7 linked regions of the Homo sapiens genome follow. The protein of the gene in region 6 interacts with the protein of the main gene of each other region in a pairwise test. Each region holds a gene or a part of one and is shown on either strand. Other genes may lie near its edges. The genes, in order: GSN, HDAC4, KIFC3, FAM9B, ZNF587, FCHSD2 and CCHCR1.

Region 1 (3,500 bases), on a different chromosome or scaffold from region 6:
CCATCTCTACAAAAAATACAAAAAGTAGCAAGGTGTGGTGGCGCTTGCTTGTGGCCCCAGCTACTTGGGAGGCTGAAGTGGGAGGATCACTTGAGCCCAGGATGTCGGGGCTATAGTGAGCTATGATTGCGTCACTACACTCCAGCCTGGGTAACAGAGCCAGACTCTGTCTCAAAAATAAATAAGTAAATAAAAGAGAAGAAAAGAAAAAGAAAAGTAAAAAGAGCTAAATGCAATCTGGTATCCTGGATTGGAACCTAGAATAAAAAACTGGGGAAATCTGGCTAAAGTCTATAGTTTAGTTAATGGTACTGAAGCAATGTTAATTTCTTAGTTTTGACAAATGTACCTGGTTATGCTAAGATGCTAAGGAGAAGCTGAGTGAATGGTATATAGGAACTCTTTGTACTATCTTTACAATTTTTCTGTAAACTTAAAAATTATTCTAAAATAAAAAGTTCAACCAAGCTCAAAAAAAAGTTCTATCTTAAGAGTCAAAATTCAAAAGTTTAACAATATCCAGTTGGCAAGGCTCTGGGTAAACAGGCATTTAAGATCCCTGATGACAGTAATTTGGGAGCTGTTCCAGAGTACAGTTGACTGTGAGGTAGCAGTCCTTTAAATAATAATTATTCTACATGAATTGAGTACTTACTACTCTGTGCCAGTCACTGTTCTAAGCAATTTCTATAACTTGTATAATTATAGAACCCCTTTAATCCTTGCATATGATAGTTCTGTTACTATCCCTGTCTCATTCACAAGGAAACCAAGGCACAGAGTGGTTAAGGAACTTGCACAGCTAGAAATAGCTGACCTGGAATTCAAACACAGGTAGTCTGACTCCTGACTCCAAAACCAGTATTTTCTTTTTTTATTTTATTTATTATTATTATTTTTGAGACGGAGTCTCACTGTTGTCGCCCAGGCTGGAGTGCAATGGCACTATCTCAGCTCACTGCAACCTCCGCCTCCCGGGTTCAAGTGATTCTCCTCCCTTAGGAGGAGAGCTAGGATTAGAGGCACCCGCCACCACGCCTGGCTAATATTTTGTATTTTTAGTAGAGACAGTGTTTCACCATGTTAGCCAGGCTGGTCTCGAACTCCTGACCTCAGGTGATCCGCCTACCTCGGCCTCTCAAAGTGCTGGGATTACAGGGGTGAGCCACCATGCCTGGCCCAGAACCAGTATTTTCAACTACTGACTCATTCTTCGGCCTGTGACCAGCAGTTCCTTGTCTAGGAACTTGCCCTAGTGCTATGCTGTACTTAGCACAAGTGCACCAAGAGGGACTGTCTGCAACTGGAAAAGGTGGAACATCCTAATGTCCATCAATCAGGATTTGCTTAAATTCTTACATTCATAAAATAAAATACTATACAGCTGTTATAAAGGGTCGTGTTGAGATTTATTATAGAAAGATATTCCCGACCATGTTGAGTGGAAAAAAGACCACACAACAGCATGAATAGTTTGGATCCAGTTACACAAAATAGAAATGGCCGGGAGCGTTGGCTCAGGTCTGTAATCCCAGCACTTTGGGAGGCTGAGGTGGGCAGATCACATGAGCCCAGGAGTTTGAGACCAGCCTGGGCAACATGGCAAAACCTCGTCTCTACAAAAAATACAAAAGTTAGCTGGGCGTGGTGGCGTACATCTGTAGTCCCAGCCACTTAGGAGGCTGAGGCAAGAGATCGCTTGAGCCCGGTAGGCAGAGGTTGCAGTGAGCTGTGATTGTGCCATTGTACTGCAGCCTGGGTGACAGAGCAAGACCCTATCTCAAAATAAAATAATAAGATGGAAATGGAAAAGTAACTAGGCACAGAAAGCTGTGGCTGGACAAAGATGTGTTCTCTCATGAGGAGGAGAGGCTGATTTTTTAACTGGGTATTGTCATTTTTGTAATTAAAACATATTTTAAAAGTAATACTGGTTTTTTAAACCAGTGAAATTGCATGGACTTTTATTTTCTTTTTATATTTTGAATACTTTTTTTTCTTACAATAAACATGTATTACTTCATAATCAGAAAAAAAATCGATAATGTAGTAGTTTTTCTTTGGCAGTGGTGAAAATCGACATCCCCTTTTTGTTGTTTTACTGAAAATACTTGGGGCACAACGTAAGTGTGATTGAGCTTTCTCCCAGAGCTCAGCCAAGAGAGTTCCCTAGCTGAAGCTAAGCCTGAATTCAGTTGTGAAAATCACAAGAAAGAAATCATAAATAAAGTCATTAACTATAACCCACACCCCCAACCTCCCCACATACACACCATTTCTGTAGTATTTCCCCAAGTATTTTCTAAGCTGTTTTCACATCCATTTTATCTGTGGACTCCCAGAAATCCTACAAAGTCGACCATTCTGCTCTTCTTCCCACTTTACAGACTAGGACACTGAGACTCAGAGAGACCTCATGTATGAGCGTGACACAGATATGTACGGAGTTGATCGCATGCTCTTAGTGCAGGAAAGCAAAGGAAGTACACGAGCATCCACTGGAGACGTGAGAAAGCTGAGGCCCCCCTCCAAAGGGGTGCTTTGCTCAAGGTCCCATAGCAGTGGAGTGGGGAAGACCAAGTCTTCCACCTCCCTGTCCTGACCCCATGCCCAGGCAGACAGTGCATCTGGTGCTCACCTTGTAGAGCTTGGCCAGCTTGCGGTTGGCCGCATCCTCCTTGGCGGTGTCCTCGGTACCTGCAGGCAGAGCCGGCTTGGGGCCCAGCACCTGTAGGAGATAGAGAGATGGAGAGGAAGGGTGGCTGTGAGGGAGGGGCCAGGCTCCTGAGATAGCTCCCAGGCAGGCAAGGATCACAAGGACATCCACTGTGACCCTCCCCATGGAGTCTGACCTCCTCCAGACACATCCTGCATCTGCTCACATGTCCAGATCTGTCCATCAGAGGTCCCTTCCACCTTGTCTCCCTGACTCAGAAACTCCAGGAGAACACTCCTGCTCCTCTGCCTCCAGACAGCGCTTCAGATATTTCGCCTACCGGCTAATTGTGATAACTATAGCTACTGAACACCTTCTACCGCCTACCTTTAAAAGATGTCACTGCATCCTCGCAGCCAGGCCAGGAGGCACAGATTATCACTCTCATTTTACAGAAGAGGAATCTGAGGTCCAGAAAGATGAAGTCACCTACTCACACAGCTATTAGGTGGCTAAGCCAGAATCTGAACCTCCATCCCTGTGGCTTCAGAGCCTATTTTCACTCCCACTGTCCCTCCCAAGCCATGGTTGGTGTCCAGGTCCCTTCCCATAATAATAATCACCATTCTGCTCTCTCCAAAAGCTGGAATTGGATGCCCCCAGAGAAGCAGGAACCAAGTGACATGGAGCAGAGCTCATGGTCTTCTCCTTTTCCTAGTGAATCTTGCCTCTATTGATACGTCCTCAACGCACAATGGCTGGCAATCCCACCATGTGACTAAATGGGCCAAAAACTACCAGAAATAGTCAGAAGAGAAAAGAGGGGATTGGGGCTCAGTGGTCT
Region 2 (3,500 bases), on a different chromosome or scaffold from region 6:
GGTCTGGGTCTAGGGGCCGTCCCCATGGGGTCCAGTGATTCCCATGCAGCCATCCGGATGGGACCCAGGGCACTGGCCATTCGGCCCACAGGGTCCCAGACATGCGAGAGCCAATGAGGAAGAGAGCGCACGGGCAGAAACCAGAGCTGGGAGGGCAAGTAACGCAGTCTTTATTTACACCACAAGATAACACGTTGCGTGATGTGGTACAGAATACTGGACTCCAGTGAAGTGGAAAGAAGGTGACCGTCAGAAGAGGATATCATTGGTCGGTGAAAATCCACCCACACAAAACAAGACAAGAATGAGAAAACCAAACACAAAACCTCCAACTCCACTGAGCAAAAGAAAGAACCATCGGGCACGTCCAGACAATCCAAGAGAAACGGATTAAATTACAGAGGTGAATGGTGGCCACGGCCAGTGCGCAGCTCACGGCGGGCGCGAACAGGCATCAGGTAGGTTACAGTGTCGTTACAACTTGGTTTTCTACCACATTCCGTAAGAAGCTCTTGGGTGAGTAAGGTTCAAGCCCCCTGTATAGATAGATAGATAGATAGATAGATAGATAGATTATATATGTTTGTCATTCTCATCAATTGGAAAATAGCGCCTCCACTATGGAGCACACACGGCAAAAAAAACAAACAAAAACTGTTCGCTTTCTTTTTCTTTCAATAGCAGACTTTTAATCAATGCCAGAGACAAAGTGAGGCCGAGCTAAGAACACGCTCAGCTTCGTTACAATGAAGAAATGGTTTCCTTTCGATGCAAAGTATAATTGTAAACCACAGTGCTCGCACAGTTCACGACTGCTTAAAGTGAAATCTTAGCCATACATCACCTAAAAGTAATTAAAAAGTCAACACAGCTGTGCGGAAAAGGGGACTCTTTCGAGTCCGCCCAGTTCTCAATCAGAATAAACCGTCACAAGGCCAGTGAGGGCGGGCGGCGCTCGCCTGGCCCGTGGAAGGAGATAAAAGGAAACAAACAAAACAAAACAAAACAAAATTCCTCCAAATCAACTCGAGAGAGACAGGCAGTTCACTGTGAATTCTGAGTAGTTTCCCTAAAACACTGTTTCCACATAAATACAATAAACTCTATTATTGGTATGTCACAAGTGCTAGATAAACTTTTTTTCTTAATATGACAAATGTTTAAGTAGTCCTTTTTATTTTTCTTACAATAAAAAGTACAATTTCTTAAGAATAAGTTCAATAAGACGCAAACTTCCCCGCCCTCCTCTCCTTCAAGGTTTTGTTTTACAGAAAAATTTCCATCTTTTGTATCTGCAAATGTCATGAGAGGGGAACAGAAAGGCATTTTTCTTCTTCCCCAAAGCTGCCGAGTTTGGCGTGCAAAATCTGTATACAATATAAAGTCATGCCGGTCGTACAGTCCATGCAACCTCCAGGTGTAGGAAACTTAAAAAAATATATTCATATATATTTATATCTATATATTTATATATGTATCAATGCCCATAAAACACGTGGGCCCAAAGTCTACAAAAAGAAGAATGGAATGAGCACGTGGCTGTGACCAGTAAAGAAGGAATGTTCTGATCAAAAAGAAAAACAACAAAGTCCATTGCTAGTGCTGCAAAAATCAAACTTGCTTTTGTGTCAGACCATTACGAAATGGTCCTTCCCCTTGCAAACAGATTTTCAAAAGAAGTAAAGAAAAACTGAAACACCTTGACAAAGTGGCCCTCCAGAACCAGAGCCCTGGGACGCTGGGGAGGGGCGGCCAGTCCCAGCGGGCCACGGCCTCCGGGACAGCCGCCTGCTGGTGGGGCGTGGGCACGTGGGCACGCTGCGGCACGGCGGGAAGCCGCGAGGGCAGGGCAGACGCCAAGAGGCCCAGTGGCGTCATCAGGGTTTCCCTCAAAGGGATATAAAGTGCTCGCTTGCTGACTCCCAGCCAGTGCCCCCAAGGCCTTTGCAAAGGAAGAAAAAGGCTAAAGGTCCAAGGACCCACAGGGAGAACACATGAAGGAACCCTCCCTGACGTGGTCCCGCCTGCAGACGCCGAGGCAGATCCTCTGCCATCTGCCCTGGACGCTTGCTGTGGAGAAGAGCCGAGTGTGTCTTCAAAGAAAAGGCTACACAGTAATGCTCTCAGCACATTTGTGAAGCTGGAGTGAGCTGACAGATGAAACGTGCCTCCCCCTGCCAGGCCTTTGCAGAGGGCGTCTCCATTTGAATGAGATTAGAATTAAGTCCCCCCACTGATAACCTGGCCACTGAGCAGTCCATGTTATCCCATCATCTGCTTAAAAAAAAAAAGTGAGATGATGCATTCCTCCCCATAAGCCACGGCGGGGTAAGAGGGCAGGTGGCAGGATCCCCAGAGGGCTATGCAGAGAATGAGGCCAAGGAGGCCAGAAGAGCCTGCTAGCTGGGCCCTGCCACTGCTCTGTGCCATGAATGGGGAATGGACCAGCTCCTCTTGCCAATCTGGGCTTCAGAGCAAAGAGTGGCCACCAGGGAGGGGAAAGTCAAACAAGTCCCAAGACCGTTCTGCCTGCTCTCAAACCACTGTCTCAGAGCTGACCATCAGCAGCCCAGTGACCAAGTGAATCCAAGAATCTGCACTCATTTGGTCAAAAGTTTGAGTTAATTTCAGAAGCTACCCTGTAAACTTTACCAAACTCCGAAACTCGGCTCTGGGTCCCTCCTGAGCACGGTGTGTCTGAACTTCTGCCCCCAAGTCTGAACCCAATATACACTTTGGAATGAAACTGGTGGCTTCATGTGCTGGAAAATAAGTTACCAGTAAAACGTGACTGTCAGTTACTGTTGAAGAGAAAAAGAGTAAAGACTGGCTGTCCTGGTCAGGCAATCATACCCTCCCTGCAGGTTCACCAGGCAACAAGGGTCCCTGGGTTCCTTGCAGCCACAGGCTCCAAAATCCAGGGCTGGCCACGTGGCTGCAGTGGAAAAACCCAAGTGGGTAAAGAGCCCCACGTGTGCCCCATGCATTGCTGACATGCTCAAAAGGTCTTTGGAAAACTCAAGTTAGAATTCTATCCTGACGATGTGGTCAGAGAAGTTTAAACATGAGTTTCATTAATGCTGACTGCCCCCGGCATCTGGCAAGCCTCCCAGGGTGGCCGGGCATCCTAAGCAACCCTCCCTGCCCTTGCCACGGAGGGGAAAAACACACCACCCCTCGTAATACTACTAGTGTTGAAAGTTAAAAAGAGCCCCTGGGCTTCTTTATACAGCTCCTAGGACAGACCAGGAAAGACACAATCGTTGGTGTCACTCCGAAAAGACCTACGGTCCCTCCTCTCACTTTCTGAAAATAGAATCTGACAGCAACAATTCTGTACGCTGCAGAAAACTCATCGTACAAAAATAAAAACAAAAATAATTAAAAACCTTTGAAAGGTAAAAAAAAATGTACAAGCAAGAATTCAGAAAGGAAAAAGATTTAGACATTATTACCATTCAGAAAATTGCTAAATGGTGAGGAAAAATGTAAAATTCATA
Region 3 (3,500 bases), on a different chromosome or scaffold from region 6:
AATCATCTCCAGGTTACTTATAATATCTAATACAATGAAAATGCTGGGTAGGGGCTGGGTGCAGTGGCTCATGCCGGTAATGCCAGCACTTTGGGAGGCGGAGGTGGGCGGATCACCTGAGGTCAGGAGTTCAAAACCAGCCTGGCCAACATGGTGAAGCCCAGCCTCTATTAAAAATACAAAACAAACAAACAAACAAACAAAACTAGCCCGGCATGGTGGCACACGCCTGTAATCCCAGCTATCCAGGAGGCTGAGGCAGGAGGGTCGCTTGAACCCGGGAGGTGGGGGTTGCAGTAAGCTGAGATCCCGCCATTGCACTCCAGCCTGGGCAACAAGAGTGAAACACTGTCTCAAAAACAAAAAAATGCTGTGTAAATAGTTGTTATATGTTATTTTTTATTTCTATTATTTCTAATTGTTGTACTGTTAATTTTTTTCAACTATTTTTGATCTGTGGTTGTTTGAATCTGGGAATGCAGAACCTGTGGATGGGGGAAGGGCCTACCATATATTCTCACACACACACACACACACACACACACGCACAATTGGCTTAAGCATGCTCAGAACAGTCGGGGGAAATGCTGAGAGGCCACATTGGAAGAGTTGGGTGGGTGGCAGAGAGGCCTTTCCTATTCACCTGATGCCCTGCTATGGAGTTTGACTTTTCACCACGTCCATGTATTACTGATATAGTCTTTTAAAGGAGAAGAACTATATTCTGTTCCCAAAATATATTAGTCTTTGCAAAGCTATCATACAAATTCAAGGAGCTAACGGCTATAAACAGCTCGACATGTAGGAGGCACTTAAGAGGCACTGGTTATTCTCATATGTACAAGTACAGCTTGAAAGAATTAAGTTAAACCTAACAGAGGTAAGACTGTATCGGCCAGTCATGGTGGCTCACACCAATAATCTCAGCACTGCGGGAGGCCAAGGCAGGAGGACTGCTTGAAGCCAGGAGTTCAAGACCAGCCTCGGCAACATAATGAACCCTGTCTCTAATAAATAATTTTTTTAAAAAATACGTATGTAGCATGTTTTTTGTTTGTTTTTGAGATAAAGTCTCGCTGTCACACAGGCTGAAGTGCAGTGGCATGATCTTGGTTCACCGCAACCTCCGCCTTCTGGGTTCAAGTGATTCTCCTGCCTCAGCCTCCCGAGTAGCTGGAATTAACAGGCACCTGCCACCCATGCCCAGCTAATTTTTGTAATTTTAGTAGAGACGAAGTTTCGCCTTGTTGGCCAGGCTGGTCTCAAACTCCTGACCTCAAGTGATCCGCCTGCCTCGGCCTCCCAAAGTGTTGGAATTACAGGTGTGAGCCACCGCGCCTGGCCTGCATGTTTGAAATATGAAGTTATCTGTAACATGTTTGGTTTAAAGAATCATAGTAAGACAAATAGCCGAATGCCTGCCCTGAGCAGTCTAGTTTCAAACAGGGCCTATAAGGGCAGCAGTAAGTGTCATGGGGGGTGGGGCAGGGGCTGCTGTCTGAGCGGCTTTGTCTGAGCTTTGGAGGGACGCCCTGAGTGGATGTCGTGCCTCTCCCAGTGCACCCCCTTAGCCTGGACCCTCCCACCCACTGCCCTCGCTCACCTCGGCCTTGACACTCCTGAGGGCCTCCTGCAGCAGCAGTGGGAAGCCGCGCACCTGCCGCTTGAGCCCATTGTAGTCGTTGGTGAGGGTCCGCAGTGCCGGCTGCAAGGTCAGCAAGTTGGTCCGGACGCCTATGGGGACACTCGGGCTGTGAGGCGGGAGGGGATGAGGGGCCGCGGCGTGGGGCAGACAGGGCCCAGCTGGTCAGCTCACCTGCTAGATTCTCGTGCACAGCCTTCATCTCCACCTGGGCTCTGGCAAAGGCCTCCTCAATGGCCCGGTTCTTGTCCTCTTCCAGGGACTGCATCTCCTCCAGCATCTGCCCATGGGCCCGCTCCAGCTCTGACTCGTACATGGCAATCTGGCCAGACCAGGAAAAGGCTCAGTACCTCGAGGTGCGGGAGAGAGAGGGGCAGGTGCCACACCGAGAAAGAAACTGGTCACCTCCCATGCACATGAACACACATGCACACACACATGTGCACACCCAGAGGGGCAGAATGGCCTTGTCTCCCTCCCCCTACAGGGCTGTGAGCTCTGGGCATTGGCTCCAACACCAACCCAGTGCTGAGCACACATCAGGTGCCCAAGCCACGTGCCCTCAGGAAGGTAGGAGAGGGCCTCTGTGATGACAGTGACAAGTGCCATGTAGAGCTTACTGAGCACAGCCTGTGTGCTGGGCCGTGGGCACAAAGCTTCTTGGGATGACGTTCCTGAGTCCCCACTGTGAGGTGGGTTCTGGGACCAGATCGTGTTATAATAGATGAGGAAAAGGAAACCAGACAAAACTTGCCCTGGGTCCCGTGGCCATCGGGGAGAGGAGGGACTGGACCCCGTGTCTGTGGGGTACCCAAATGTTTAACCGATGCATTGGCCCAAGGGCCTGCCTCTGGCTTCCTGGCTGGGCATGTGCCCCCACACAGCCTGGGTACCTGCGCCCGGAGCCGCGCGGTCAGCTGGTGTGAGCTCTGCAGCTGCTGTTCCATCTCCTTCAGCACCTGCCTCTGCATAGCCACCTGCTCCTGCAGGTGCTGGTTCCGGGCCTGGGACTCGCTGAGGGCCTGCTTGGTCTTGGACGACTCCACCTCCACTGTCTTGATGACATACTGCAGGGTGAGGGAGGAATGGCACGTGGAGCCAGCGGGCACCGTACCTCACCCAAGAGCCTGAGACGCAGCAGGCCAGGGGAAGGAACTCTCGGGAACATCCCACTCAGAAACCAGAAAAAAACTAGAGGAGCCTTGAGGTCCTGGCTTTCCAGAAAGCTGGGGGGGTCTCCTGGAACCTTCTCAGCTTAACAAGAGGCTACTATGAGCCTGGCTGGGGCCCCATCCTGGGTACAGACAAGAAAGGCAAAAAGACGAGGGCAGAATCCAGGGGCTGCGCTGCATCTGTGCCTGGCACCTCAGCTGTTGGATACCTACTCGGTGCCTGGCCCTGGATACAGGAAGGGGAAGGGGCAGGACCAAGCACAGAACTGGAATGATTCTTCCACCCACACACACCTACCTATTCACCAGGACAAGCCCCCCTTATGGGCTAGCCCTGCCCCAGGTGCCAGGGGCCTTGGGCTGAGGCACAGATCAGGTGGGCCAGGGCTCACCTTGACAGGTGGGGACTGGGCCCGCAGGCTGGCAATGGTCTCGTGGCTGTCACGCAGGCGCCGACTAAGCCGCTCCTCCTCCTGTGCCTTCTCAGCCAGGCAGTCCTTGAGTCGCAGCTCCACCTCAGCCAGCCGGTCGGTCTTCTGCTGCACCTCTAGGTTCAGCTCTGACAGCATGCCTTTGCTTTCCGCCATCTCCAGCTGCAGCTGGGACAGCTTGTCACGGAGCTGGGCGCTCTCCTGCAGCCATTGGGAGGCACTGGATGAGTGCAAGGGACAGGCTCACTGTGAGGA
Region 4 (3,997 bases), on a different chromosome or scaffold from region 6:
TCCTTTAGAATGCGAGTTTATCTCATTCATATTTCTTGCTCAACAGATTCACTTGGCCTTAATTCTGTTCTTTTATGTTATGTTATGGTCTCTGTAGTATTTTCTTTATTTTCCAACTTTTACTACAGGATTTGTATGCTTTGTGTGTGCTCTTTTTGGTTATATAGGCATTTAAGGCTGTGGATTAGTTTTCCTGATGACTGCCTTTATAATTTCAATAGTATAATGAAACTCTGTATCTTGATTTACAAACTTTAGGCAATATTTATTCACTCCCAACTCCGAAACAACTCTCTCCCTATTACAGGGGATCGGAGGTGGGAAAAAGCTGAGTTAACGATAAGTATTAAGGCATTAATTTGTGGGTGAAGGTTGTGGCATATGTCTGGATAAGTCTGGAGTATGAAGGTTTGTGGGCAAGTCTGGGGCATGAGGATGAGAAAGAAAAGTAGTGAGGAAACAAAAAAGGTTATGGGCTGGGCACGGTGGCTCACGCCTGTAATCCCAGCACTTTGGGAGGCCAAGGCATGCGGATCAACTGAGGTCAGGAGTTCGAGACCAGCCTGGACAACATGGTGAAACCCTGTCTCTACCGAATATGCAATAATAATAATAACAACAACAACAACAACAACAACAACAACAACAACAACAACAGGGCGTGGTGTTGGGCTCCTGTAATCCCAGCTCCTCGGGAGGCTGAGGCAGGAGAATCGCTGGAACCTGGGAAGGGGAGATTGCAGTGAGCTGAGATCTTGCCACTGCACTCCAGCCTGGGCAATAGAGTGAGACTCAGTCTCAAAAACCAACAAACACAAACGATAAAAGCACAATCCATTGATTAAAAAGGACGCAGCTGGGCATGTTGGAAGCACACAGGGCATGGGAGGGAGCCTGGGCTCCACCCACAGGGTGATGGCCATTCTAGCCAAAGGGGCAGGGGTGGCTGGAACAAGCCCCAGGGCGAGGTTCTAGGCCCTGTCCACTTGGCCTCCATCCCAAGTCCTTGTGTCTCTCCCCAGGAGGAGAAGCTGAAAGATTGTGGGGACAGAGGCCCCAAAGGGCCACCCCCACCCCAGTCCACAGCAACCACGGGCTGTCACTTAGGGGAAGGGTGAGGGCGTGCCAGCAGGGGGCCTGGCCCCACACAGCCCGTCACACGCATGTGCACTGAGCCGACCAATCAGCGAGGAGCGCAGGAAGTCCTGCCTGCAGCTCTCACGAGAACTGAGGACCCGTTTTCTTTACTTTTCTTTTTTTTTGTTTTTTTGTTTTGTTTTTTTTGGGACGGAGTCTGGCTCTTGCTGCCTAGGCTGCAGTGCAGTGGTGTGATCTGGGCTCACTGCAACCTCCGCCTCCTGGGTTCAAGCAATTCTCCTGCCTCAGCTTCCTGAGAGGACCCGTTTTCTAAGAGGTCCTAGTGGTGCCGCTGCCTGCAGGTTCTTTGAGGGCGCCACATCAGGGGTCCCTCAGGTGAAGCACTCGTGGTGGGGAGGCGGGAACGCAGGCACGAGGCCCTCTGGGAACCAGGGTGTGAAGCGCTGGGCAGCCCGCCGACCTGTGAGGAAATGGCCCCAGCGTCGTCGCCTGGGGCCTGGGTCAGGGCGAGGCCCTGAGGGTGGGCTAGGGTGGGCTGGGGTGGGCCAGGGCAGGGAGGGAGCTGGAGCTGCCTGGGTGATCCCTAGGGCCCGGGAGGGTCCTGGGGGCTTGTGCATGTGTTGGGGGGAGGGGCCGAGGGGGGGAGAAGTGGGAGTGAGGCGGGGGTGTTGTGGGGGACAGTCTGAGTGGGGCCCTCCTGCCTGGCCGCCCGACAGGACAGGACACTTGGGGTCACCGGGGGTCACCGGGGGTCCCCTGTGCGTCCAGGGGGGCGAGTGGCAGTGCAGCCCCTGACATTCCCCTAGAGGTGGCTGGGGAGATCCTGTGTCACCCAGCGGCCCTCCCAGCCACATGGGGTCGCTAGGTGACTCAGAGGTAGGGCTGAGTTCTGTCCCAAAAGGGCGGCGAGGATCCCGCAGAGGCCGTGGAGTTCAGGTGTGAGGGGCAGCTGTGAGCTTTGCAGCCAGCCCCGGGGACGGGCTGGACGGGCCAGGACAGGAGGGGACACTGGCATCTTTTCCGTCCCTTCCTGCTCCCACATGAGACCCAGGGCGGGCCAGCCCCACCCTTCTTGAACCTGTGATCCCAATGGCTTTCCTTTCCGATGCCAGGTTTCCTTAGCTTCCTTAGTGTGTCTTTGCGCTCACCAGGTTCGGGGATCGCCTCTAGCTTCCCAGGACAACCAGCCACGGATCCTGTGGGCAGGAGGGCTGCCAAGGCCCAGTTGGAGGCTCAATTTATGGCGGCCTGGGGGAAGAAGCATGCAGGTAAATACAGCCCAAGGGGACCCAGAAGAAGGTGCACGCCCAAGAGGACGGTCTGTCTGCTTTCTGCGCTGGGGGCACAGGGGCAGCCCGAGGCCCCAGGCCCCTTCGTGGCTCTGGAGTCCATTGTGCACGTGCTAAGATGCGCCAGGTTTTCAAAGCAGGCTCAAGGGCCTTAGGCTTCCCCGTGGAAGGCTCCCCCTCATAGCAGGGTTACAGATGCTCTCAGAGCAGCTCTTCTCCATGGGTGCAGTCCTGACATCCAAGGGGTCTGAACTGTAGTACGTTGTTTACTGGAACCTGAACCCGAAGGGCTTCCAAAAGTCCCTCGATAAAATGGTCAGGAACCGGTGATTCCATGTATAGCTCTGCTTTAAAGCTTTAATTGGCAGAGAGCCCCCCCCCCCCAAAAAAGTCTACAACTAGTACATTTCTCCACAAAAAATGTCCACAGCAGCATCTTCCTCTAAAAAAGGTTTGTCTTTTACATTTTAATGCAGGAAAGGATCCAGTCCGTGATGAATGTGAGGAAAGAAACCGTTTTACAGAAACAAGGGAGGAAGATGTAACTGATGAGCATGGGGAAAGAGAACCTTTTGCTGAAACAGATGAACACACGGGGTAAAGTGTTTAAGTCACTTTTGCCTGTCGGATAGGGTCTTTTAGGAAAAGTCAGCTTTGGACCATGTCATCACTGTTCTATTCTATGCAGAACATTTCACATAAGACATTTCTTTTCCCAACAAACATGGCATTTTGTGTAGTATTTTGTTAAAATTTTGATGTAACTTTTTTTACAGGGCTAATACCAAGAAGCCAGAAGATACTGCAGGTATGTTTTAGGAGTTATCTGTAGTTTATGAAAATTGTTTTCAGTCATACAACTGTTGCAGTAGGTTATATGAATTAGTGGACGACAAGACTGTCTTAAATGGCTTCTCATATGTAGCATTTAACGTACGTATTTAATGTAATCTATTTGATAAATTTTTCTTACCTTTTTGATTGTTGATGTGGAATGTGAGAATGCTTCTAATAATGGTGAAGCGAGATGGATGGCTTTTCTTTCATACATGTGGAAATTTAATTGTTTGGAGGATATTAGAGGACAGTGGAGGAGAAACAGCTCTATTCGTTCCTTTTAGTATACACAGATTAAGTCATATATCAATGGTTTTTTTTAGCTTTTACTTTAAGTTTGGGGGTACATGTGGAGGTTTGTTATGTAGATAAATTGCATGTCACAGGGTTTTGGTATACAGATTATTTTGTCACCCAGTTTATAAGCATAGTACCTGATGGGTGGTCTTTGATCCTCACCCTCCTCCTACCCTCCACCCTCAAGTAGGCCCAGTTGTCTGTTGTTCCTCTCTTCCTGTCCGTCTGTACTCAGAGTTTTTAATATGAGTTTTTCATGTTCCTAATTTAGCTGTTCTATTGTCACAGCTTTCTGATTTTGTTTTCTTTAAAGTACAAGAGAAAATTGAATTTTCTAAAATCATTTTCTATTATTATTCCAGTAATAAACTGTGTAGTAGAAAAGTAAGGACAACTTTTCTACCTAGTGAGAAACATGTAATTGGCTCCAAAAACTCATAAACTTTATATTGCTGTGTGAAATATTAGTTACACTC
Region 5 (2,879 bases), on a different chromosome or scaffold from region 6:
CAGTGTCCCAGATAATCTTCTTCTGATTGGGACATTTCCCTGGGAACAGTGGTTACTTGCCAAATTCACATTTACGGCCAAAACTGTGGCTGCAGTGTCGACATTCATGCAAGTGGGGAAATGGGCATGTGACCCCTGAAAAAAGATTCTGGATTCCATAATCTCACCTTGCTGAGAAGAAACTGCCATTTCAGCAGAAAGTGCAATGACAGTTTCTGCACAGGGACTGGAGATTATCTCTAGAAAAGAGCTTGGAGTGAGGAAATTAGTTAATGTGGATGAATGACGTTACCCATGGAGAATGAAGTAAGTAGCTAGAAGACAAAAGCCTCAGAACACATAAATCTCAATGGGTATTGAGTAGAGGACTCAGAGCTCTGAGATAATTGGAGCTCATGGCTATCCTAGAACTTGGATAACATAAAGTTCTTGTTTCTACAAAGTGTGTATCCTTTCCATATGTGAGAACTGTGAGGAAGTACAAACTTGGAACAAAAGAAATAGTAAGGTAATCTTAGAAAGATGTTGAAAAGAAAGCTATGGTGGCATCTTAACTGTTTCACTGCCTGGCAATCTATATGTATTGTCACTTTGGGACGCTTATGATTCCACATGAAGTGGATAACCAGCTCATAGTTCTTGTGGTACTGAAAACCAAGTATTCAGCCAGGTACAGTGGCTGACACCTGTAATCCCAGCACTTTGGGAGGCCGAGGCAGGTGGATCACTTGAGCTCAGAAGGTAGAGAGCAGCCTGGGTAACATGGTGAAACCCCATCTCTACTAAAATAAATAAATAAAATTAGCCAGGTATAATGGCACATGCCTGTAGTCCCAGCTACTCAGGAGGCTGAGGCAGAATCGCTTGAACACAGGAGGTGGAGGTTGCAGTGGGCCGAGATCATGCCACTTCACTGTAGCTTAGGAGACAGAGCTAGACTCCATCTGGAAAAAAAAAAAAAAAAGAAAACCAAATATTCCTTGCAGCAAAGTGACATCACTGAAGAATGAATGAAGTCCAACATACGTCTTTGTTATTTCATTATTTTTAAATATATTAATGAAATGGGAAATAGATAAAATTCATTTTAAAAAACAAGCCTACAGGTGAGGCCAGGCAGGGTGCCTCACCCCTGTAGACCAAGCACTTTTGGAGCCTAGGCAAGTGGATCGCCTGAGCCCAGGAGTTCGCGATCAGACTGGGCAAAAAGGTAAAACCCTCTCTACAGAAAATACAAAAGTTATCCAGTTGTGGTGGTGCATACCTGTATTTCCAGCTACTCTGGAGGCTGAGGTGGGCAGAGTGCTTGAGCCCAGGAAGCAGAGGTTGCAATGAGCTGAGATTGTGCCACGGTACTCTAGCCTGGGAGACAGAGCGAGACTTTGTCTCAAAACAAAAAAAATGCAAAACATAAACCACTGACTCAAAAGTTATAACCACTTATTAAAATAATAAACAATTTCAAATACTAACCATACTCCCTCTTGGTAAGATAGAACAGAAATTCTTGGACACTGATGGTAGATAGATATACAAATGAGCAATAATTTCATTCTTAAGTCATAGTTTGGCATTGCTTAAAAAGTTGTACATTAGGCCAAGCACAGTAGGTCACACCTGAGAAGCTGAGGCAGGCAGATCACTTGAGGTCAGTTCATAACAAGCCTGGCCAGCATGGTGAAACCCCATTGCTAATAGAAATAAAAAAAAAAGTTATCCAGGCATGGTGGTGCACACCGGTAATCCCTGCTACTCGGGAGGCTGAGGCAGAAGAATCAGTTGAACTTGGGAGGCAGAGGTTGCAGTGAGCCGAAATCATGCCACCTAACTCCCGCCTGGGTGACAGAGTGAGACTCTGTCTCAAAAAAGAGTTGTACTTTAATCTATCACGTGACTCAGGCACTGCACACCACCATATTACCATAGTGAAACATACCTACATGAACAACTGCATTCAAATATAGCAGTTTCATTTATAACAGACAAAAACAAGAAGCATGTCATTCTTTTTTCTTTTTGTAGAGAGGAGGTCTGGCTATGTTGCCCAGGCTGATCTCTAACTCCTGGCCTCCAATGAACCACCTTGTCCTCCCAAAGCATCAGGTTTACAAGCATGAGCCACCATGCCTGGTTCAGCATGTCATATTCTAAGCAATACGAAAAGAATGAAGGCCAGGTGCAGAGGCTCATGCCTGTAATTTCAGCACTTTGGGAGTCAAGGTGGGTGGATCACTTGAGGTCAGGAGTTTGAGACCAGCCTGGCCAACATGGTAAAACCCCATCTCCACTAAAAACACAAAAATTAGCTGGGCGTGGTGGTGTGTACTCATAATCCCAGCTACTCAGGAGGCTGAGGTAGGAGGATTGCATGAACCCAGGAGGCCCAAGTTGCAGCGAGCCAAGACTGCACCACTGCACTCCAGCCTGGGTGACAGAACAAGACTCCATCTCAACACGAAGTCGCTTAAGACCGAGGACAGCAGACATTCTGATGTTTTCCACATTGACAGCACTCATAAGGCCTTTCTCCAGTATGAACTCTCCTGTGTTTAACGAGACGGGATGCTTCAGCAAACGATTTCCCATATTCACTGCACTCATAAGGCCTTTCTCCTGTGTGAACTCTGATGATGAAGGAGGGTAGAGCTTCGCTGAAATGTTTTTCCACATTTGGTGCATTCATAAGGCCTTTCTCCAGTGTGAATTCTCCTGTGTTTAATGAGACTGGAACATTCAGAAAAGGATTTTCCACATTCACTGCACTTATAAGGCTTTTGTCCAGAATGAACTCTTTTATGAACATGAAGCGCAGAGCTGGAAAGAAATGATTTCCCACATTCACTGCATTCATACGGCCTTTCTCCAGTGTGAATCCTCTG
Region 6 (3,500 bases):
TAAACACAAAACTATTTTAATTCTCTCTAAATTCTTAAAGACCCAAGAAAAACAAACTTTATTGAGATAATTAGGAATTTTTTTTAAAATATAAATTACCCAAAGAGGCTTTTAATATAGAAAGCAGCAAAATTGTAGAATGAAAAGAATTTTAGAAATTCTGATCACGGCTCACTGCAGCCTCAACCTCCGGGCTCAAGTGACTCTCCCACTTCAGCCTCCTGAGTAGCTGGAACTACAGGTGTGTGTCACCATACTCAGCTCATTTTTTTTTTTCCTTCTAGAGATAAGGTCTCACTATGTTGCCCAGGCAACATAGGAGTTCAACATCTTGAACTCCTTGGCTCAAGTAATCCTCCCACCCTGGTCTTCCAAAGTGTTCAAATTAGAGGGATGAGCCAGTACACCTGGCCTAGTAATTCTTTTGCAAGGTCTCATAGCTCAAAATTGATAGAGTAAGTAGAAATTGATAAACTGGATTTTAAAAATTAATATTTTTGTTGGGGGAATTGTGATGAGGCAGGGTTTAAAAATTTTTGTTCTATACAGACATTTCAGCTAGATTATAACAATGACAAATAAATTGAAATAGAGCAAAATAATCAATATTCAAACTTAACCATCTTTACATTCATATTTTACATTCTAATTCATTTTTGGGGTTATCAGAAGTTTGGGAATGAACTTTACTATTATATTTTGCTTTGCAAATGAATCTGGGCATTCAAACTTACATCTGTTCTCAAAGTCAGGAATATTAAAGTGTTAAACTCTGGACACAGATACAAATGAAATATACAAAAGTCAGAGGAATGTGATCTGTAAAAGTAGAAAGATAAATTCTGAAGAGTCCAAGAATAGGTTTTTGAGTCAGATAGACTTAGTTTGAATCCATTGTATGCCATTTTATGGCACTACTAGCTTTATGATCTTGGGCATGTTAATTATCTGAGTCGTAGCTACATCTGAAAACTAGTGAAAATGTCACCTATCTCCATAGGGTTGGTAGGTTATAATGAGGTCATATTTTAAACATTCTGGTATAGGATCTACATAATATCTTAGGCATCCAGTAATGGTAACTGTTAATGTTAAAGACCCAATTGAAAATTACTTGAAACAAAAATTTTCTTATTACTGTTCATAAGAAAATCCAGATAATTCCTAGGTTCTTAATAGCCTAAACAATGAATCCAAAATGAAGATTGAAGATATATTGAAAGATTAAGGCAGATCTCAAAGAGAATGAATTTGTAGGGAGTAGCTAGATGAGAAAGGAGGCAACTGATAGAGACATTTAATTTTTGTTACTGAGCAGCATTTTAGGAATAGGTAAAGGGGTTTAAATTGTGTGCTGGCTGCAGATGGGCCATAACCCAATTTGCCTTACAGAATTTATACCTTCTTATTGAGTATTCACTGTGCTCAGGATAGAGCTTTTCCCTTATTTTTTATGTGTCTACTAAGACTTGGGAGTCCAATGATCAGGACAGGTAACTAATGCCACTGATTGGAAGATGTGGCTTTGAGATCCTTTGGGTAGGGAATGACACAAAACTAAAACTCAAATTAATTTATCCTTTTCATGAATTCTGAAATCAAGCCATGGAATACATGTGGAAGCTCCTGAGACACAGGTCTTGACAACTGAGAATTTCATACAAGGTGAATACAGCCCAGGCTATTAAACAATACACAGAGAAATGTTCCAATACCACCTTCACTATCAAAGATCAATATAAATCAGGATCTAGTATAGATAATTATGTTTTTGTGTTTTTGTTTGTTTTGTTTTTTGTTTTTTGAGACAGAGTCTCACTCTGTTGGCCAGGCTGGAGTGCAGTGGCATGATCTCAGCTCAGTGCAACCTCCACCTCCTGGGTTCAAGTGATCCTCCTGCCTCAGCCTCCCAGGTAGCTGGGACTACAGGCATGTGCCACCATGCCCAACTAATTTTTTGTATTTTTAGTAGAGACGGGGTTTCACCATGTTGGCCAGGATGGTCTCGATCTCTTGACCTCGTGATCCACCCGCCTCGGCCTCCCAAAGTGCTTGGATTACAGGTGTGAGCCACCGTGCGTGGCTGGTAATTTTTTTTTTAAGACAGTGATATTAGCAGTGGTCGATTCTAACAAAGAAACCGTAATGACTGCTTCTTTTTAAAATGCTGGCAAATTTATTTTTATTTTTAATTTTTTGAGACAGAGTTTCACTCTGTCACCCAGACTGGAGTGCAGTGGCATGATTTTAGCTCACTGCAACCTCTGCCTCTCGGGTTCAAGAGATTCTCATTCCTCAGCCTCCGGAGTAACTGGGATTACAGGGCATGTACCACCATGCCCAGTTAACTTTTTGTATTTTTAGTAGAGATGGGGGTTTTGCTATGTTGGCCAGGCTGGTCTCGAACTCCTGTCCTCAAGTGATCCACCTGTTCTTGGCCTCCCAAAGTGCTGGGATTACAAGCATGAGCCTCCACGCCTGGCCTAGATCATTCTTTTAACATTTTTCTTTTTGGAAGACAGGTTCTCACTCTATTGCCCAGGCTGGAGTGCGGTGGTGCAATCATGGCTCACTGCAGCCTTGACCTCCCAAGCTCAAGCAATCCTCCCACCTCAGCATCCCAAGTAGCTGAGACCACAGCATATGCCATCACACGCAGATAATTTTTTTGATTTTTAGTAGAGATGAGATCTCACTATGTTGCCTAGGCCATCTCAAACTCCTGGCCTCAAATGATCCTCCTGCCTTGACCTCCCAAAGTGCTGGGATTAGAGGCATGAGCCACTATGCCCAGCCCAATATTTTTCCTTTATCTTTTAAAAATGTATTTGATACAAAAATTAGCTAGGCGTGGTGGCGCCGGAGGTTGCAGTGAGCCAAGATCGTGGCACTGCACTCCAGCCTAGGCTACAGAGGGAGACTCTGTCTCCAAAAAAAAAAAAAACTCTAGTCCCTTTAGAATAAAATATTACAATAAAGTCTTTTCAACATTCATAAAGTTATTAAATAACTTTGAAGAACTAAATTAAGGAAATCAGCATTCCAATATTCTTGATATATTAGTCTTTAAGTCATCTTAACTATTTTGTCCTTAGATGCTCTCTCAAGATATGATTTTGTTTTATTTTAAGGTTAATACAAAGGCATAGAAGGCTCAGATATCTGAGCAGAGTGAGCAGCGATAGAAAAGCTGACTTCGCAGAAGAAAACAATCAGTTTTTTAACTCTGTAACTAAAATATAACCATTTCAAGGAGAGAAAAAGAGATGGTCATGTATGATGAATGAAAATCACTAACAGTAAAATACTAGCATTCCAAACCATTTCAAAAAAAGATAGTGTTGGGGTTGTTAGGCCAATGGCATAACATTCTAGTTAACCCTCATTCAGGGAATTTGTACTACTTACATTTTTCAGTTTACTGAGAGACAAGAAATATACTGGGGCTGGGCACAGTAGCTCACACTTACAATCCCAGTGTTCTGGTAGGCCAAGGCAGA
Region 7 (4,287 bases), on a different chromosome or scaffold from region 6:
TGCCTGGACTCACAGGACCTAAAGTCTGGCTGAGATCGTGGAACATGATCTCCCTAGAGAGAGCTACATACAGGAGGATTCAACATCAAATGTGTATATCATTAGGCCACACATTCTTTTTGTTTTTTGGTGGTTTTTTTGTCTTATTTATTTTTTTATTTTTAGGCCACACATTTTAAGTGGAAAGGTTGGAAGAACACACAGGGACTTCTCAATTCTAATTTAAGGGCAAGAAGTTTGAGGGAGGAATGGGCATAGAGAGGTCGTAAGCTTCCAGTATCAATATGGTGAGGCCAGGTGCTAGTTAAAAGGCATTTATTGGCTGGGCGCGGTGGCTCATGCCTGTAATCCCAGCACTTTGGGAGGCCGAGGCGGGCGGATCACGAGGTCAGGAGATCGAGATCATCCTGGTTAACACGGTGAAACCCCATCTCTACTAAAAATATAAAAAACTAGCTGGGCATGGTGGCAGGTGCCTGTAGTCCCAGCTGCTTGGGAGGCTGAGGCAGGAGAATGGCGTCAACCTGGGAGGCAGAGCTTGCAGTGAGCCAAGATCTCCCCAGTGCACTCCAGCCTGGGCGACAGAGTGAGACTCCATCTCAAAAAAAAGGCATTTATTGAGTGTTAGGTATACTTTATGAGGAGTCTGAGAGAACAGTACATAAATAACACAGTGCCAGCCTTTAGAGAAATCGTCTACCAATGTCACGTGAAGTTTAATCCAGCTTGGAACATGGCTCCTGAGGCAGCTCTCTGAGACCCAGGACTATAAGAGATTGTTGTTGTTGTCGTTTTTAGAGACAGGGTATCACTGTGTCACCCAGGCCTCAATGCAGTGGCTGGATCATAGGTCACTGCAGTCTTCAACTTCTGAGCTCAAGGGGTCCTACCACCTTAGCCTCCTGAGTAGCTAGGACTACAAATGCATGCCACCACAGCCAGCTAATTATTTTCTGTGGAGACGGAGTCTCGCTTTGTTGCCCACGCTGGTCATGAACTCCTGGGCTCAAGTGATCCTCCTGCCTCAGCTCCCAAAGTGCTAGGATTATAGGTGTGAGCCGCCATATCTGGCTCGCTCTTTCTTTCTTTCTTTAGTAGCAGCGATCTGTAGGCTAGGGAAATTAAGTGACTTGCCAAATGTCCTCTAGCTGGTAGCCAAACTAGAAATAGAGTCTCTGTCTCCTGACACCCAGTCTAGTATTCCTTCTTCATCATGCTGCTTCTTCTAATGTAATCCTATTCTGGAGCAAAATGGCAGAATGATATCCCAGTACATCTGGGAAAAGACACATGAAACAAGAATAAGAATGTTTACAGATAATACGACAGCATGGCCAGCTCCCACAGCATGTCCTCTGTAAAGGCTTTCTTCCATCAGAATGAACCCACACTGCCACAGTGCTGGGTCTCTACCTCTAGTTTGCACTTCTTCATCTTGCCTCATACCATGCTTTACCATCAGCTGGTGGTCAATCTATCTCCCCTCTTAGGATTTTAGATTCCTTATTAATTACAAATTTAAGTCAGGATTTGTCTTATTCACTATTGTTATCCTCATCCCTAGCACTTAGCACACTGCTTTATTATTTATGCACTGTAGGAACTAATTGCTTACATAAAAATGAGTACGTTCTGGAAACTAGGGCCGAAATAGGGTAAGGAGTTTATTCCAGTGAGGAAGGGTCACTAGCAAGCAAGCCTGAGAAAACGGCGTGGATGGATCCCTACCTGCCTCTCCGCCCTGGCTCCTGCCTGTCACTGGAAACATCCCGTTCCCACATGGTCACTTGAGGTCTCTGGGTGTCTAGCCGCCTCTCTGAGACATCTTGATGGCCTGGGGGTTGGACCAGGGGAATGTCTGAGAGCCAGGTGGGAGCCATTCTTGGCAGAGTTGAAAGGGGCCGAGCTTGAAAGTGGGAGGGGGGAATCAGCCCAGTGGAACCTGAAGAATTACAAAAACAAAGATGGTCAGTTTCCCAGGCAGAGACAACCACCACTCCCCTTGTCTGGTCCCACTGACCTGAAGGTGGAAACATCTCCACATTATTTGAAGGCTCTAGATTCTGTCTCCAGCCATCTATGTTCCCCTGGACAAGAGGAGAAACAAAGACACTCCAATTCAATTTTCAGGCCACCTTCCAAAGAGAAAGCCCCTACAATAACAAAGTCATAATCCTTGAATTATAGCCAGGTCCACCCGATGCTTAGCTCTTTTCCTACTTCCCCAAAGTAGGAGATACCCCAAATTCACTTGCTTGTCTCAACCTGGTTCCTCATGGAACCCAAGCAACTATCAAGTGGAGAGAATTTACTGAAAGAGACAGACTGAGAGGGGCTCTGAGGCTTTACTCATACTTTCAGGATTCTGGGCAGTGCCTCTACCCTCCTCCTTAAGTTTCTATGGTCCCTGCTGCTCCTGGCCAGAGGTGAGAAAGGAGGTACACAGTGCAGGGGTCTTGAGCGCCATCTCCAGAGTTCTCTCCATGGCTCAGCAAGGCCTGAGGGAAGCCCATCCAGACACCAGCAGGCCATGACTCTTGGGTCCTTCCCTGTTAAAGTGCTGGCCCAAGGCCTGGCCCCAGCTGAATGTGGCCACATGCAGGGCTAGACCCTCCCCAAGACCTTGGGAATCCAGGCCGCCTAGATCCCCAGGCAGAAAAGCCAGCGTCCTGACATCTTATTCAAATCTTTCCTGCGGCTGTTCTCTCAGCTTCTCTCTACTATCCCCTTAGCTTCCATGCCTGCTGCCCGCCTCCTCTTTCTCGAGTCCTAACACATAGTGGGCACTTTAAGATCTTCCTCCCACCCTCCCACCCTCATTAATCTATTTTTTACCCGAATCTGGGATCCCTACTCCCGTCCCTTTTTACAACCTAATCTACCTTTTTCTGAAGGAATTATTCTGGTCCTGACCCTCACCCCCATCTCTCAATAGCCTGCCCTCGCCCCCTGTACGCTAGCCGGCTCTACTCTCCCACCACTGCTCCCCTAGATACCCGAGGCTTCACCCAGTTAGCCCGTGAGCTCTAAGGCTGTTCTGATCTCTTCATCTGTCCCTTCACCTGGCCCCTGTACCCCCTTCCCCTTTGGACCCCTTGAACCCTCCCAGGACCCCCGCTCAGCCCCTTCCCGCCCCCAACCGACTCTTCCCGAACGTCCCTTACCAACCGCGAGAGCCCCCTACTGCGCTTTGGCCACACCCCCTACGCCTCGCTCCCGGCCCCGCCTCTGCCCCTGACCGCGCCTGCGCAAGGCGGGCGCCCTAAAGTCCTATTTCACTCTGTTGGGAGGAGGGGGAAAGGTGTACGCAGGCGCAGTGGCGTCTAAATTTGGGCCCACTAAATGCGTCGGAGCATCTCCGCGCCCAGGCGGCTCCTCCTCACTGCGGCAACCCGGGAAAACTTGTGAACTAATCAGAAAAAGTGGAAGGCGGGAGATCTTGGGGCGCTGTCCAATGGCGCGGAAGAGAACACATGAGCTGGCCAATCGGGAACGGCACGGGGGCGGGCTCGCTCGGCGCGAAGTTCGGGCCCGGGAATTCCGAAGGAGGGGTAGGCGCTGCCCGCGCGCAGAGGCCGCGCCCCTCCTGGCCCCGGCTTCTTGGCTGTCAAACAGATGCAGCAACGTCGGCTCCTGCCGAGGAGCCCAAGGGGTCCCGGGATCCGCCGCACAGGCTGGCACTGCTTGAAGAGGAGGCTACTCGGAGACTGCGCCGCGCGGGTAGATCCGAAACGGGGCTGGGGCGGAGTGGGAAAAGGCCGGGTATGCCTTGCATGATCGCGGGGAGCTCCTTCCTGTTTTTATCCCACCTAGAGAAGCCGGGAAGTAGGGGTTTAGGTCCAATTTGTTGGAGTACTTAAGGACTCGTTTGCACTTTCTTTTGGGGGATGACAGTGGATTCATTGCCCTCGGAGGTTCAACCAGTTATGAGTGAGGGATTGGCCAGAAGATCGGGGCGCAGGCAAGCAGGAGTGCTCTATTAGGATAAGCAAGTTTGACAGGAAGAAGCTACTCTTCTCCGAATTACACAGAGGTGATGTGTTCGTATTGCACGTAGACGTGTGTATAACAGGACCTCCTTCCCCGCGCCCCGCCACCCCGACACACACAGGAGCTGCCTAAAGTATCCTTGCCTTGCAGATTGGAGGCTCCCCAAATATTTTGCGATCTGAGGATCCAGCTCAAGTGAGGTGCCATAGGACGTGTTCCTGAGTTTGCATTGCACGGAGACCTTCCTGGAATTTTTCATTTGCAAGTCGGCTTAACCAATTTTGCATTGAGTCCTAG

What was found.
Region 1: the proteins of FCHSD2 (region 6) and GSN interact in binary tests that used the Homo sapiens proteins (3 or more experiments, as listed by UniProt).
Region 2: the proteins of FCHSD2 (region 6) and HDAC4 interact in binary tests that used the Homo sapiens proteins (3 or more experiments, as listed by UniProt).
Region 3: the proteins of FCHSD2 (region 6) and KIFC3 interact in binary tests that used the Homo sapiens proteins (3 or more experiments, as listed by UniProt).
Region 4: the proteins of FCHSD2 (region 6) and FAM9B interact in binary tests that used the Homo sapiens proteins (3 or more experiments, as listed by UniProt).
Region 5: the proteins of FCHSD2 (region 6) and ZNF587 interact in binary tests that used the Homo sapiens proteins (3 or more experiments, as listed by UniProt).
Region 7: the proteins of FCHSD2 (region 6) and CCHCR1 interact in binary tests that used the Homo sapiens proteins (3 or more experiments, as listed by UniProt).

What each region holds. Positions count from the first base shown.
Region 1 is NC_000009.12:121,313,162-121,316,661, reverse strand, and holds part of GSN (gelsolin), read right to left. Parts: intron 2,729-3,500; coding exon 2,639-2,728; intron 1-2,638. UniProt on the Homo sapiens protein: Calcium-regulated, actin-modulating protein that binds to the plus (or barbed) ends of actin monomers or filaments, preventing monomer exchange (end-blocking or capping).
Region 2 is NC_000002.12:239,048,021-239,051,520, forward strand, and holds the end of HDAC4 (histone deacetylase 4), read right to left. Parts: 3' UTR 148-3,500; downstream 1-147. UniProt on the Homo sapiens protein: Responsible for the deacetylation of lysine residues on the N-terminal part of the core histones (H2A, H2B, H3 and H4).
Region 3 is NC_000016.10:57,767,992-57,771,491, forward strand, and holds part of KIFC3 (kinesin-like protein KIFC3), read right to left. Parts: intron 3,447-3,500; coding exon 3,207-3,446; intron 2,710-3,206; coding exon 2,536-2,709; intron 1,965-2,535; coding exon 1,817-1,964; intron 1,735-1,816; coding exon 1,604-1,734; intron 1-1,603. UniProt on the Homo sapiens protein: Minus-end microtubule-dependent motor protein. Involved in apically targeted transport. Required for zonula adherens maintenance.
Region 4 is NC_000023.11:9,031,328-9,035,324, reverse strand, and holds the start of FAM9B (protein FAM9B), read left to right. Parts: upstream 1-1,197; 5' UTR 1,198-1,473; intron 1,474-2,041; exon of another isoform or gene 2,042-2,203; coding exon of another isoform or gene 2,204-2,338; coding exon 2,339-2,366; intron 2,367-2,863; coding exon 2,864-2,984; intron 2,985-3,163; coding exon 3,164-3,195; intron 3,196-3,997. UniProt on the Homo sapiens protein: May play a role in meiosis.
Region 5 is NC_000019.10:57,859,859-57,862,737, reverse strand, and holds part of ZNF587 (zinc finger protein 587), read right to left. Parts: coding exon 2,598-2,879; 3' UTR 1-2,597. UniProt on the Homo sapiens protein: May be involved in transcriptional regulation.
Region 6 is NC_000011.10:72,890,819-72,894,318, forward strand, and holds part of FCHSD2 (F-BAR and double SH3 domains protein 2), read right to left. Parts: intron 1-3,500. UniProt on the Homo sapiens protein: Adapter protein that plays a role in endocytosis via clathrin-coated pits. Contributes to the internalization of cell surface receptors, such as integrin ITGB1 and transferrin receptor.
Region 7 is NC_000006.12:31,155,003-31,159,289, forward strand, and holds the start of CCHCR1 (coiled-coil alpha-helical rod protein 1), read right to left. Parts: upstream 2,801-4,287; 5' UTR 2,599-2,800; coding exon 2,383-2,598; coding exon of another isoform or gene 2,356-2,382; intron 2,154-2,355; exon of another isoform or gene 2,088-2,153; coding exon 2,021-2,087; intron 1,943-2,020; coding exon 1,729-1,942; intron 1-1,728. UniProt on the Homo sapiens protein: May be a regulator of keratinocyte proliferation or differentiation.